3 separate regions of the Homo sapiens genome follow, and all the other regions are linked to region 1. Evidence: fine-mapped expression QTL. A gene starts in region 1. Each other region holds a variant in brackets. All regions are shown on one strand. Distances are between the middles of the regions. Region 1 holds the start of TIAM2 (TIAM Rac1 associated GEF 2). Region 2 overlaps TIAM2 (TIAM Rac1 associated GEF 2). Region 3 overlaps TIAM2 (TIAM Rac1 associated GEF 2).

Region 1 (4,160 bases):
TTCTATATATTTTTTCAAGTTTGTACAACAAACATGTTACTTTTATAATCAGAAAAATATTTTAAAATAGTGCGAAAAATGCAATAAAAGAAGCAAGAAAAATAAACACATACCAGCACCCCCCCACCCCCCGTCTCAGTGTGGTAGGTGTGAGTCAGAAGTAAGAAGTAAATAAGTGTTGGCCGGGCGCCATGGCTCACACCCTAATCCCAACACTTTGGGAGGCTGTGGGCAGATCACTAGAGGTCAGGGGTTCGAGACCAGCCTGGCCAACATGGTGAAACTCCGTGTCTACTAACAGTACAGAAATTATCTGGGTGTGGCGGTGCATGCCTGTAGTCCCAGCTACTTGGGAGGCTGAGGCAGGATCACTTGAACCCGGGAGGTGGAGGTTGAGCGAGCTGAGATCGTGCCGCTGCACTCCAGCCTGGGCGACAGAGACAGACTCCATCTCAAAACAAAGCAAGCACCGCCCCCCCCCACCCCACCCACAAAACAGTAAATAAATGTCAAGGAAGAAAAGGTCTTTGGAGGTGATGCTTGAATTGAGCATGGAAGAGTGAGTGGAGTGGGAAGATATTTTCCTAGGCAGAGCCAAGTGCGCAAAGATGCAGACAAGACCAGGGGAGGGCCTACAGAGTGGGAGGGGCCAGTCACTACTAGTTCGGTGTGTACAGAGCCTGTGGTGGTTGAGGGTGGAGAGCAGGTCTGTCCGATCCCCGCAAAGCCTGGAGGCTTCCTTTTGATACTGGGTGTGTTGTGGGAAAGCTGATTTCATTTGTCTTTTTGACTCACAGTTCTCCACGGATCTCCCGTTACGGAGACTGGGTCGTATTCACGCACTGCACCTAACTGACCAGGGCCCTGGCTGCTGTGCTCTGAACTCCAGCACTGGGATTGTGCCCAACGCCACCCTTCCCACCTGGCCGCTCCCAGCCAAGGACTGGTGGCGGCATGGACACGAAGGCAGGCAGGTTCCGGGGAGAATCGGGATCCCCATGATGCGTAATTTTGGCTGAAGGGCTCACGGATGATCTTGCTGAGCTTTTCTTAGACTGCAGGGAGGCCGGGATGGGTGCTTCCCTCCCTCCTTCACTTGGGCTCTGATTTGCAGAAGGTCCGGCCCTCTCCAGCTCTCACGGCTCCCTCCTCATTTAGTTCCACGGCCATTTCCCCCAAGAAAACCCTCCGCATCTAGTCCTGAGTGGGCGCTGCTTCTCGTAGGACCCACCCTAACACATGGCCTGCATCTACCTTCCCTTCCCTCTCCTCTCCAGGGTGCAGCCTTTTTCAAGGCGAGGAGAGTGATTCCAGGCAGCTTTCATTCCTGGGTCTCCTTAGCTCCCTCGCCCTTCCCAGCATCTGGGCCCACTGGGCCACTCAGGCTTTTCTAATAAAAATCGCAGCTTTGGCCCAGTGCGGTGGCTCACGCCTGTAAGCCCAGCACTTTGGGAGGCCGAGGCGGGTGGATCACCTGAGGTCGGGAGTTCGAGACCAGCCTGACTAACATGATGAAACCCCCATCTCTACTAAAAATACAAAATTAGCCGGGCGTGGTGGCGCGTGCCTGTAGTCCCAGCTACTCGGGAGGCTGAGGCAGGAGAATCGCTTCAACCCAGGAGGCGGAGGTTGCGGTGAGCCGAGATCACGCCATTGCACTCCAGCCTGGGCAACAAGAGCGAAACTCAGTCTGAAAAAATAATAATAAAAATCGCAGCTTCTCCACCTGGAAAGTCCCAATTCGACTGGGTCTTGGAGTGCCGACTCGATTGCCATCTCCGCTGCGAAGCCATCTCCTCTCAGAAGGGGAAGGAGATGGAAAGTCTCTGCGGCCGCTGACCTCAGTTTTGCGTGCCTTTCCTCGGTGGGACCCGGGAAGAGCCGTCTTTAAATTCCTTGGGGAAGGGACGGGGTCGCACTGGCGCATCGCATCCCCGGTAGCGGGCAGAGCCCCCAGCTCACAGTGAGCGCGTGCTCGATGTTTCTTGAATTGTTTTATTTGTGTTGTTCCAAAGAAAGCGCGAGGGACATGGTCCGGGACCAGCCGGGAGCTGGCGCGGGGGTCCTGGGCCTGACGCTGGGCGGGGCTGGGGCGTGTCCGGGGCGGGGCGGGGCGGGAGGTGCGGTCGCGGCTCGGGCCTGGCAGGCGCTGCGCGCGGGGCTGGGGCAGCGGTAACCGTAACTGTGGCCGCGGCCGCCGCAGGCGCACAGCGCGCGTCCAAGTGGAGAACAAAGTGACCCCCAGAACTTCTCCAACTCCTCCCGGCGTTCCCGCGAGGGCCACGCGCCGAGGGTAGCGGAGGGCGGCGCGCGACCGGCCCCACCGAGCCCGGCGCGCGACCCGAGGTAAGGGGCGCCCGGGTGAGGGCGCAGGAGGGCGACGACCCGCGCTGGTTGGCGGCGGCTCCAGGTCCCCTGCGGGCGGGGCGGCGCGCGGCCGGCGGTCCCCTCCCTTCCCCTTTGTTGGCCGCCCCTCTCTGCCCCCGCTTTCCTGGGAGTCCCGCGGAAGGTCGCGGCTGCGGGGCGCGGCCTGGCACCCTCTCCCCGGAGGGCGGCAGCGTCCGGGCACAGCCTGGCACGGGGGACGAAGCACTTTCCAGAAGGCTCTGAAACTAGGTCCCCTGGTCCCCTCGCGCTGCGCGACACGCCAGGACCCACTTTCAGCCCCGGTCCCATCCCGGATGGGAGGAGGCGGCGCCCCGGCCTCCTGATACCGAGGTTCTCGCCCAAAGCCGAGCCGTGGGTGCCCGGAGGGGAGCGCCCGCTGCGCCCACGCCCGCCCGGCGACCTCGGAGCCTCAGAAAGGCGCTGCGGCGAAGCAGGATCCCAGGCGGTCGGCTCAGCGAGTGTAGACCGTGCGGTCCCTGCTCAGCCCCTCCGGCCTTTCCGAGCGCGGGAGCCATCCCGGACGGGCGCGGCTCCTGGGGGGGCTGAGGTGCCAAGTTTCTGTGAAAGCCGACACGTTGTGCCCCTAATGGATCCTATTTACCAAAAACAGTTCAGAAAGAAAAGAGTCCATTCTTCCAGCCATTCGTTGCTGACAGCCGCTGGAAAGGTCTGGGAGTAACATTGCACGAGGTATTTCTATCTTTAAGGAGCGGCGAAATTTAATATTGATGAGCTTGCATGCCGTTTTTTTAAAATAGACAAATAGGTTAACTTTATTTAAAGAGGGAGAAGGCTGCTTGATTCCAAAGATAATTTCATTCAGGGGGAGGTTTTCCTGCTTTTCTCTGCAGAATTCAGGCAAGAGGCCACTTGGTGACACTCCTCAGCCTCCTTGGGTAATGGTGAGACCTTTATTTACTATGCGATGAAGGGCCTGGGATTCTCTTCTCATGGTTATTCACACATTCTACCTTTTGCTCCCCAAATGATGCTGACCACCTTATTTTAACAGACAACACCGGCTATCTCCAGTTCTCTTTCCAATAGATTTAAGCCAGAGTGTCTCTAAAATCTTACCAAGTTTCGTACAGGTGCGGATCATATGCTATAAATGTTTCAGTCCTAGGCTCTGGATAAAAAAGTGTCCATGGTTTTATAATTTGGGCTTAACCAGTAGAACTTGTGTGTATACACTCTTAGAAGTATTTCCTGATGTGCTTAAGATTGTTATGTTTTAAAAATATAGTATCATGATTGGTGCAGTTTTGTAAGCAAACTTTTGTTCCACCGGATTTTACCTGCTCACTTTATAGGAAAATAAAACTTGTTGCTTTAGGGTGTCAGAGGTTTTTGTGTTGGGTAAATGTAAAAGAACATGGCAAGGTATAACTGAAGAAGAGTTTATTATTTACTGTGGCAAAACACGCCCCTAATGACCTCAGAATCAGCTTTCAACACCTTCACATACCATACTAAGATGCTTCATAATGTGGCACCTGCCTGCCTTTCCAGTTCCATCTACTGACTTTCCCCAGGCCTCCTGGCTCTCCCCCGCTTGCACACTGCCTGCTCTAGACACACCAAGCTACTCAGAAGTTGTTATTTCCAGACCATTGTTTGGAATGAATGAAATTCTGCTTACACTGTTCTTACTCCTCTTGCCCATCTGTCAATTACCCACGCATTCTTAATGTGTCAGTCAAATACCTTCTCTAGGAAGCTTTTCTTCCTTATCCGTAGGCGAAGTTAAGCTCCTCCTCCTCCAGTAGTCA
Region 2 (4,160 bases), 250 kb after region 1:
ACTCCAGCCTGGGTGACAGAGCAAGACTCCGTCTCAAAAAAAAAAAAAAAAAAAAAAAAAAAAAAAGAATTTCAACAAGGCATAAACTTCATTATCCTGATGGGAGCCTTGGGAGCTGCTGCCAGGTTGCTGCTACCCAAATCTCATGGGTATTTTGGAGACTAAAGCGTTGAAGACACTTTCTTCTATTTTCTTTCAGGATTTGAGCTGCCTCTTTGAATTATACTTGGAGCCACTTCAGAATGAGACCTTTCTTACCCAAGATGAGGTAAATAAAATCACCTTCCTTCTGTCCAGTGATCCACAGGTTAGTCTCTGTTTGCCTTTTAGCAGAACTCCTATGAGAGTATCTCTGTTGATCCCAAAAGAACATCCCAAGACTTAACGGTCTTCTGAGAGTCCCAGGCATAGCCTCCTCCTAAACCACTGCTGTGGCCTCGGCTGCATGACCCAGTGGCAGAGTGTTTACAAAGGCAGAGGGACGGTTATGGTCTTTTTGAGGTAGAAGAGAGTGTGATCAGAAATTCCTTTTCAATACATACCTTTGTAATGTGAAACCACATAATTAGTTCTACTGACTTACATTTTTCTTAATTTGAATTCTGAGAATTTTACATCCACTTAAAAATTTACTGTAGTAATAGAGAATTATGGGGGATGGAGCTGTGAAACTTTCTATGTATAAGCCATATCCCATAATGAATGTGCTGTCTTCTTAAAGGATTTACTTTCTGTCTGCTTTTCCGTGAAGAATTTCCTTGTGATTTATTTGTGGGCCTAAGAGTTAGCGTGGTGTCCTGAACTTCATGGCTAATCCCCTCATTTCAAATCCTGATCTTCACATAGATGGAGTCACTTTTTGGAAGTTTGCCAGAGATGCTTGAGTTTCAGAAGGTGTTTCTGGAGACCCTGGAGGATGGGATTTCAGCATCATCTGACTTTAACACCCTAGAAACCCCCTCACAGTTTAGAGTAAGTATCTCAGATTTAGGCTTAAAGTAAAAATACGTGGCTATGGTACGTATTTCTCTCATGAGAATTCTCTCATGAGAAAGAATTTCTTGTCCTGTGACTATTGACTATTTATTGTCCTGTGACTATTTCCTTGCACCGTTTTCCTCTGTCAGGTGGTAAAGGAAGGCTGTATATATTTTTTTTTCCTGGCGCAGGTGCTTTTGGTAGTCAGAAGTCCAGCAGCACCTCCCGCCTGGTTGTTGACCACGTACGTGCTCTTTTCTCAGCTGCTGTGAAGGATATCCAAGGTGGTTGCTTCTGAAACCAGAGCTCCTACCCTGTGCCCAATCCTTCTTCCCCGTGGTCATGTGGATCTGGGATTAAGAGAATAGGTTTCTAATTGCTGGGCTCAAGCCCTCTCTTCTATGAAGCACCAGTGCTCCATAGCATCCGTGTAAGCCGCAGTGTGGCAGGAAGCCCCTCCAAGGGGACCTGGAACCATACAGACAGCATCACTCTCCCCAAGCAATGCAGAGTCGGCTTTATTAGTGAACCTCTCTCAGATTGTTTATATCCCACCTTGTCAGCTGTATTTTTGTAGAACTTTCTTTGTTTCTTGTCCTTGGATTGCACACTGTCAGTAGGCTCTGCCGCTGGAAACTTTGCAGTCAAGCTAGATACCTGCCAGGGGAGCGCCTGGGCTGTTCCCCACCTCCTGTGTGGATGGAGCAGGTTTGAACTTCTCCAAGGCATTAGTGCTATGGAATCTGACAGAAGCCATGGGGCCGTCAAATGCCATAAGCCAGCACGCATTGATTAAACCATGTCTGATTTGACTTTCCCCTCTGCCCTTCTAGAAATTACTGTTTTCCCTTGGAGGCTCTTTCCTTTATTACGCGGACCACTTTAAACTGTACAGTGGATTCTGTGCTAACCATATCAAAGTACAGAAGGTTCTGGAGCGAGGTAAGTTGCTTATGCCTTTTATAGTTTTTTTTTTTTTTTGCATTTTTAACTGTTAGTAAAGGGTAAATCTGTATTTAACAAGTAGAGAGTAAGTACAATTTTGATGTATTAAGGTCCATCCTTGACCTTGACAGTGGCAAATATTAAAGGGAAAGGTTTCTGTTTCTGTCAGTTAATTAGTAGCTGGGAACAAGTATGCCTAAGAGCAGAGATGTTGCTTTGCCATGTGTCACTTTGCTGTCAGTTACATCTGGATTCTTTTCTTGCCAAATTCCTTTCTCTAAAAACTTGCAACCCCAAACCCTAGATGGGAGTAGAAAGAAATGCATGCTATGGT[GT/G]TTTTTTTTTTTTCCTTGTTAATCTTCTTAAGCCTGAGGAGCCACAACAGCCTACCACGAAACTCACAAGAAGTGTGTCAGCTGAAAGTAAAGTCTCTCTGGTGCAACTGGAAAGAGCTCACATTTCCCAAAGGTTGCTCTTCGGTGTTTCTCTCTGCGTGGGCCTGGAGGGCATCTGGAGGTTTATCCTGACGCCCTTAGTGCTCATTCATGTCCACGGATGCAGCTCTGCCATTGGATTTTAATCCAGAACGTCATGATATCCCAGAAGAAAAGCCCCACATTTAAAAAGTGGGGTCTTAGAGTGCTTCAAATGAGCAAGACCCAGCCCAAATCCATCTTCTCCAGTTGCTTTAGACAGTTGCTGAACTCTGTTGCCATTTCCTCCCACAAACACCCTCTTTTTAATTAAATTTAATTAATTAATTTTAAAAATGTAAAAATGTTCGTAGAAATGGGTCTCACTGTGTTGCCCAGGCTGGTCTCAAGCTCCTGGCCTCAAGTGATCCTCCTATCTAGGCCTCCCAAAGTGCTGGGATTATAGGCATGAGCCACCACGCCTGGCCCACAAGCACCTTTGTATTGACAGTCTGTAGTACAGTGAAAGCATACCAATGTACTTGTCAATACATATTGACAGTCAGTGCAGTACAGTGAAAGCATACCAATGGCTTGCTCCATTCCTCCTTTGTCATAAAGAAGAGGGGTCCTGTCACCACCTACTTGGCCTGGTAATCACATTCAAAATGGTATTGCATCTCCTAGAATGTTGTAGATTTTGATCTTACAACACAATCCCAAATAAGGGTGTATCTTCCTTCAGAGTAGCTGCATTCCAAGCAACTGGGCATCCAGTGCCAACTGGTGGAATCCAAGTAGCACTGGTGTATCCGCTGGTACCCAAACCAAATGCACCTGGATTCCTACACACACCCTTCATGGCACTCAGACAAAGGGGCAGTTTTCACTGCCAGAGAGGGTCCTACTGCCATGCCTGTTGGAAGGGAGCTGTGGCTCTAGGTATGCGAAAGGTGAATCTGCTTGGAGCTGTGGAGTGAAGGCTGTAGGCTGCAGGCTGTGGTGCCTGTCACCTTACTTTACAGGAGAAAAGACACTGCTTTCCAGATAACCCTTAAGTGTACAGAATACAAATAAGCAACAACTAGAGTGAGGCCAGTGGGAAAAACACTGGTTTATTTTCCTTTATGAAATTTTTGTGGGTATGGTGTAGGGTCTGGATAACATTGCTTAATGGCTTTTTTGATGTTGTTTTTTTTGAGATGGAGTCTCACTTTGTTGCCTAGGCTGGAGTGCAGTGGCGCGATCTTGGCTCACTGCACCCTCCACCTCAGGAGTTCAGGTGATTCTCCTCCCTCAGCCTCCTGAGTAGCTGGGATTAGAGGCGCCCACCACCACGCCCGGCGAATTTTTGTATTTTTAGTAGAGACGGGTTTCACCATGTTGGCCAGGCTGGTCTCGAACTCGTGACCTCAGGTGATCTGCCCGCCTCAGCCTCCCAAAGTGCTGGGATTACGGGCGTGAGCCACCGCACCTGGCCACGCTTCATGGCTTTTAATGAATTGTTTGAAACTCACTTTTTAGGCCACCTATAACAATATTTCTCATGGGTATGCATGAAATGTGTCTTTAAAGTCAGACATTCCTGCATTTTGAGTCAGTGTTAGTCTTTGGGGCGCAGCCTGCATTCCATCCTCGGAAGCTCCCAGCACTCCAGGGCTCTGTCAGGGCTGTGAGGCGGAATCCCACGCTGACAGCTGGGTGCCTGACCCACTGATGTGTTGGGGTTTTCATTAAAGAATGGCATTAGGAGGACTATAGAAATAGATGATCTATAAATGTTAAAAGAGAAATGAAGAATTTAATTCACCCCACTGTGCTCTT
Region 3 (4,160 bases), 230 kb after region 1:
AAAAAGAGTGGTATTGAGAATCCAAAAGACAGCGTTCCAAGCAAGTGGCTGCCTGGAAGGCCCTTTGGCAATGGAGAGCTTGTCCTGTAGAGAGGGATGAACAACAGAGCGTGGCAGGAAGGCAGTGGGAAGAAACTTGCTGGTGACCTTTCTCGCCATTTCTTGCAACTGGCCCTTCCCGTCAGCTGGGCTGATTCCTCCTGCCAAGTGGGTCCTTGGACAGAGGCAAACTAAAAAGTGGGCAGTGGGGCTGTTGGCATGGTCTGTGCTGTGGGCTAACTGGGGCCAAAGAGAAATTGCCAGCAACAGGAAGTTGCCTGATGAGTCCTCAGCTGGCTGTGCCTTTGCCAGGCAGGCTTTTAAAACTCAGACATGGGGTGTTGAGTTATTGAACGAGACTTTGGCTGGGGCTCAGAGTCTGCCTGCAGCTGTGGCAGAGGGCCTGTGTTTTCTCTATTAAACATGGAATACACGTATGTCTAGGAGCAGAGTATCATGCAAGGCAGGGGGACTTGAGCCTGGCGAGGCTGGTCTGGAGGCCTGGCGGGCTGCACAGTAAGAACCCCAGGAGCCCTGGGCCAGCCTGGCCCCACCAGTGCTTGTGTCTCCTGATCCTGATCTGGAAAGTAAGGATGATGGCACCTAGCACACAGTGAGGTTGGAAGGATGCAGGGAGGTCACCAATTGCCCTTCTTCCCCTTTCCTTTCTGTCTTTGGATCACTGAGGCACTTTCGTCAGCACAACTGGCTTCCCAGCCTCTTTTTTTTTGGCAGAGAAGAGTTTAATGAAAAAATAGGGATTTGCATTACAAACTAGGGACAAAAAGAAGACATCGTTTTAAACTTGAAGTTATAGAAAATAATCAAGCGTGTCTTACCTCTTTTTAAAATTATTATTATACTTTAAGTTCTGGGATACATGTGCAGAATGTGCAGGTTTGTTACATAGGTATACATGTGCCACGCTGGTTTGCTGCACCCATCAACCCATCATCTACCTTAGGTATTTCTCCTGACGCTATCCGTCTCCTAGCTCCCCACCTCCACTACAGGCCCCGGTGTGTGATGTTCCCCTCCCTGTGTCCATGGTTCTCATTGTTCAGCTTCCACTTACGAGACATGTGGTGTTTGGTTCTTTCCCCTGCTGTTTTCTGTGCCACAGTACTTTCCTACCTGCCTTCCTCTGTCCCTGCTTTCTTCTTTTCCAGACTTTTCTCTTTCATCTTGTTTTTTTTTTTTTTTGAAAAAAAAAAAAACAAAAAAAAACACAAGTTATTATTCAGAGTCATCTTCAGAATCACAAAATAAAGAAGTAAAAAAGAGAAGTTTTAGAGAGCAGCGCTGTGAGAGCTGCAGTGTGAATCACTGCGCTGGGGTGGGCTGGAGGATCAGGGCCTGTCAGGTGGAATGCTGGCTCTGAAATTAACTTGCTGAAGAGATAATGACACTCCCGTTCCTCATCCTGCTGGGACAGTGATGCACAGGAAAGTGACTTGGAGACTACTCAGAGCTGAGGCCACACAAAGATTTGACTGAGCAGAGATGCTGATCTTCACCTAATGCTTTATTTGCCACGTTTATTTC[T/C]GATACAGGCTTCTCCTTTTTCTCTCCATTGAAACAGCGGGTGCCATGGTTTTGCTCTCATCCTGTCTGAGATGACACTTGAAGTGGGATATGTTTGACCTTTTCAAGGCAAACAGAAAGCCAAGTTCAAGGAGTCATCAGCCAGCTCCCTGCAACTTAGGTGGTCGTAAGGGACCTCTTGCCAGAGCTGCTTGAGGTCTCCCCTTTAATTTTGTCCACCTGGATGACAGTGAAGATGGGGTTGAACGGCAAGTGTCCCATGTCTGTCCTCTTTCTTCCATCTTCCCTCTCCATGCCCCTCAGCCCTCTATTTCCAGATCTTTATTTCCTTTCTGGGCTTCTGAATTAGAGATGGAGCTATGGAGACCTTGATATAATTTTGCTTTCTGTGGGAGAAGAAAGCAGGAAGTTTGATTTCTCAGGCCAAACTAGCCTCAGTGTAAATACCATTTGCAGGTTCTTGCCTATTCTTCTTCTTATTTATTTATTTATTTTTGTTTTTTTGAGAGGGAGTCTCACTTTGTTGCCCAGGCTGGAGTGCAGTGGCGCGATCTTGGTTCACTGTAGCCTCTGCCTCCCGGGTTCAAGCAATTCTTATGCCTCAGCCTCCTCAGTACCTGGGACCACAGGTGCACGCCACCATGCCCAGCTAATTTTTGTATTTTTACTAGAGACGGGGTTTCACTATGTTAGCCAGGCTGGTCTCAAACTCCTGACCTCAGGTGATCCACACTCTTCAGCCTCCCAAAGTGTTGGGATTACAGGCGTGAGCCACCACACCCGGCCTGTTCTTGCCTATTCTTTGGGGAAGCCACCTCGACATGGGGTACACTCGGAGTAAGAACACATGGGTTGGGTGGGCGTGGCTCACGCCTGTAGTCCCAGCACTTTGGGAGGTTGAGGCTGGTGGATCACTTGAGGCCAGGAGCTCAAGACCAGCCTGGCCAACATGGTGTGACCCTATCTCTACTAAAAATACAAAAATTAGATAGGCATTGTGGCTCGTTCCTGTAATCCCAGCTACTCGGGAGGCTGAGGCATGAGAACTGCTTAAGCCCAGGAGGCAGAGGTTGCAGTGAGCCAAGACTGCACCACTGTACTCCAACCTGGATGACAGAGCAAGACTCTGTTTCAAAAACAAAAAACAAACAAAAAAAAAAAACACAAAAAAAACCATGGGTTTTTTGCCCTAAGTCTTACACTGAGGAGCCGTTTCTTCATCCTTGGGTAAGTTGTCAAACTTCCCTATCTGTGAAACTCAAGGGTCCGTCTGACCAGCTGTCCTGCCCTGATGTCTCTCCCTGTCTGTCTTTCTGCCTGAATGCCTGATCCAAAGCAGCTTTCTGCTAGATATCCCTTTTTATCCCCATGAATATGGAGAGCTGCTTAGAAGAAGAATCTTAGCAGAACCCTATTAGAATTTGCTTCGGTCGTTTATTGTCCTTCATGCATTTCATTGAAGCTAAAACCTGTAAGATTTTTGGAGGCTTCTCAGGTAATGGTATGCGAAGGTCAGGATGGTTAGATACCGTATTTCCAGATGCTCTCTGCTCTTTTATGCACTTACGTTATTTAGGAACTTATTTCAAGCAGACCATTTGAGAATCTGAGGAAAGCTATGGGTCCCCAGAAGATTGCTTATGCACATACGTTAGAAATTGCAGACAATTCCAGGGAGCTCCCCAGTCTTACGATGTTTATTCACAGCTTTCCCTGTTAGGAATTTATGAACCGTCAGTTTGTGATCCTTACTTTGAGTAAACATCTGAATAGCCTAGCCTGTGTCTTAATATTATTGATATTGCAGAATCAGTTATCAAGTACCTGCAATATGAACAGCACTGTGTTTATATAGTCAAGTGATATTTTGAACTTTGTTTTTATCTTAGTCTAATTGCTTGGGTGAGATTAGCTATTAATGCTTTATTTTTTTAATGTGCTAAGAGATGTTGAGGAACGTTAAATAAATAACAACCCCTAGATGGCAAATAAATTATTAGGTTGAGACCAGAATAGATTATATTGATGATGGTGGTTAGACATCCCCAGATTTTTTTTTCTTTTTTTTTTTTTTTTTACTCTGCACTTCAATGGATGCAAACCCAGGTTGTTAAACACCAATCGCAGCATTACGTGCTGGGATGTTTTGGCATTTTGAAAGTTTTATTTTCTATCATTAGTGAACAAAATGGGTTTTTTTTTGGAGTAAGAATTTTAACATTTTGATCCCAAACCAAACTTTTATGGATCTCTTTAGTAAAATAAATAGCTGTCTGATGGACTAGGAGGGGTGTTTTTTATGCTCAGCGTAAGGGACGCTCAGGTGGCTGTGGCTCCTGTGTTCCCCGGCAAGGGCGTTGCCAGTGAATTTCACCCTTCCCCTTTCCATGTCAGCAAATTAGCTAAGCCCTTGTTGTCGTTCGCCCTTTTTCTTTTAAAGAAGTAATAGGCACAATTACTATCTAATTTTGGCTTGCCACTGTGTGGGTGCCTGGAATCTCATCCGATCTTTAATATTTACCCAGGGGGGTGGGTGTAGTGTCGCATTATTCATTCACTCATTAAATCCCCTTCAC

What was found. PIP is the estimated chance that this variant, and not a neighbour inherited with it, causes the effect.
Region 2: its variant is fine-mapped to the expression of TIAM2 in neutrophils (BLUEPRINT, PIP 0.95).
Region 3: its variant is fine-mapped to the expression of TIAM2 in whole blood (TOPMed, PIP above 0.99).

The regions. Positions count from the first base shown.
Region 1 is chr6:154,993,147-154,997,306 of GRCh38, forward strand. TIAM2 (TIAM Rac1 associated GEF 2) reads left to right here and starts at 2,169. Exons shown (of 27, transcript NM_012454.4): 1 at 2,169-2,346. RefSeq lists enhancers at 2,063-2,670, 2,671-3,276 and silencers at 2,117-2,256, 2,347-2,426.
Region 2 is chr6:155,243,812-155,247,971 of GRCh38, forward strand. TIAM2 (TIAM Rac1 associated GEF 2) reads left to right here. Exons shown (of 27, transcript NM_012454.4): 17 at 200-268; 18 at 847-972; 19 at 1,812-1,920. It also overlaps a transcript of TFB1M not described here. Among named protein-coding and RNA genes, the nearest start is that of CLDN20, 18 kb to the right of the region's middle. RefSeq lists an enhancer at 3,524-4,160. The variant GT/G (reference allele first, on the strand shown) is at 2,258.
Region 3 is chr6:155,219,884-155,224,043 of GRCh38, forward strand. The region is part of intron 15 of TIAM2 (TIAM Rac1 associated GEF 2); the gene reads left to right. Among named protein-coding and RNA genes, the nearest start is that of CLDN20, 42 kb to the right of the region's middle. RefSeq lists enhancers at 562-1,061, 3,871-4,160. The variant T/C (reference allele first, on the strand shown) is at 1,585.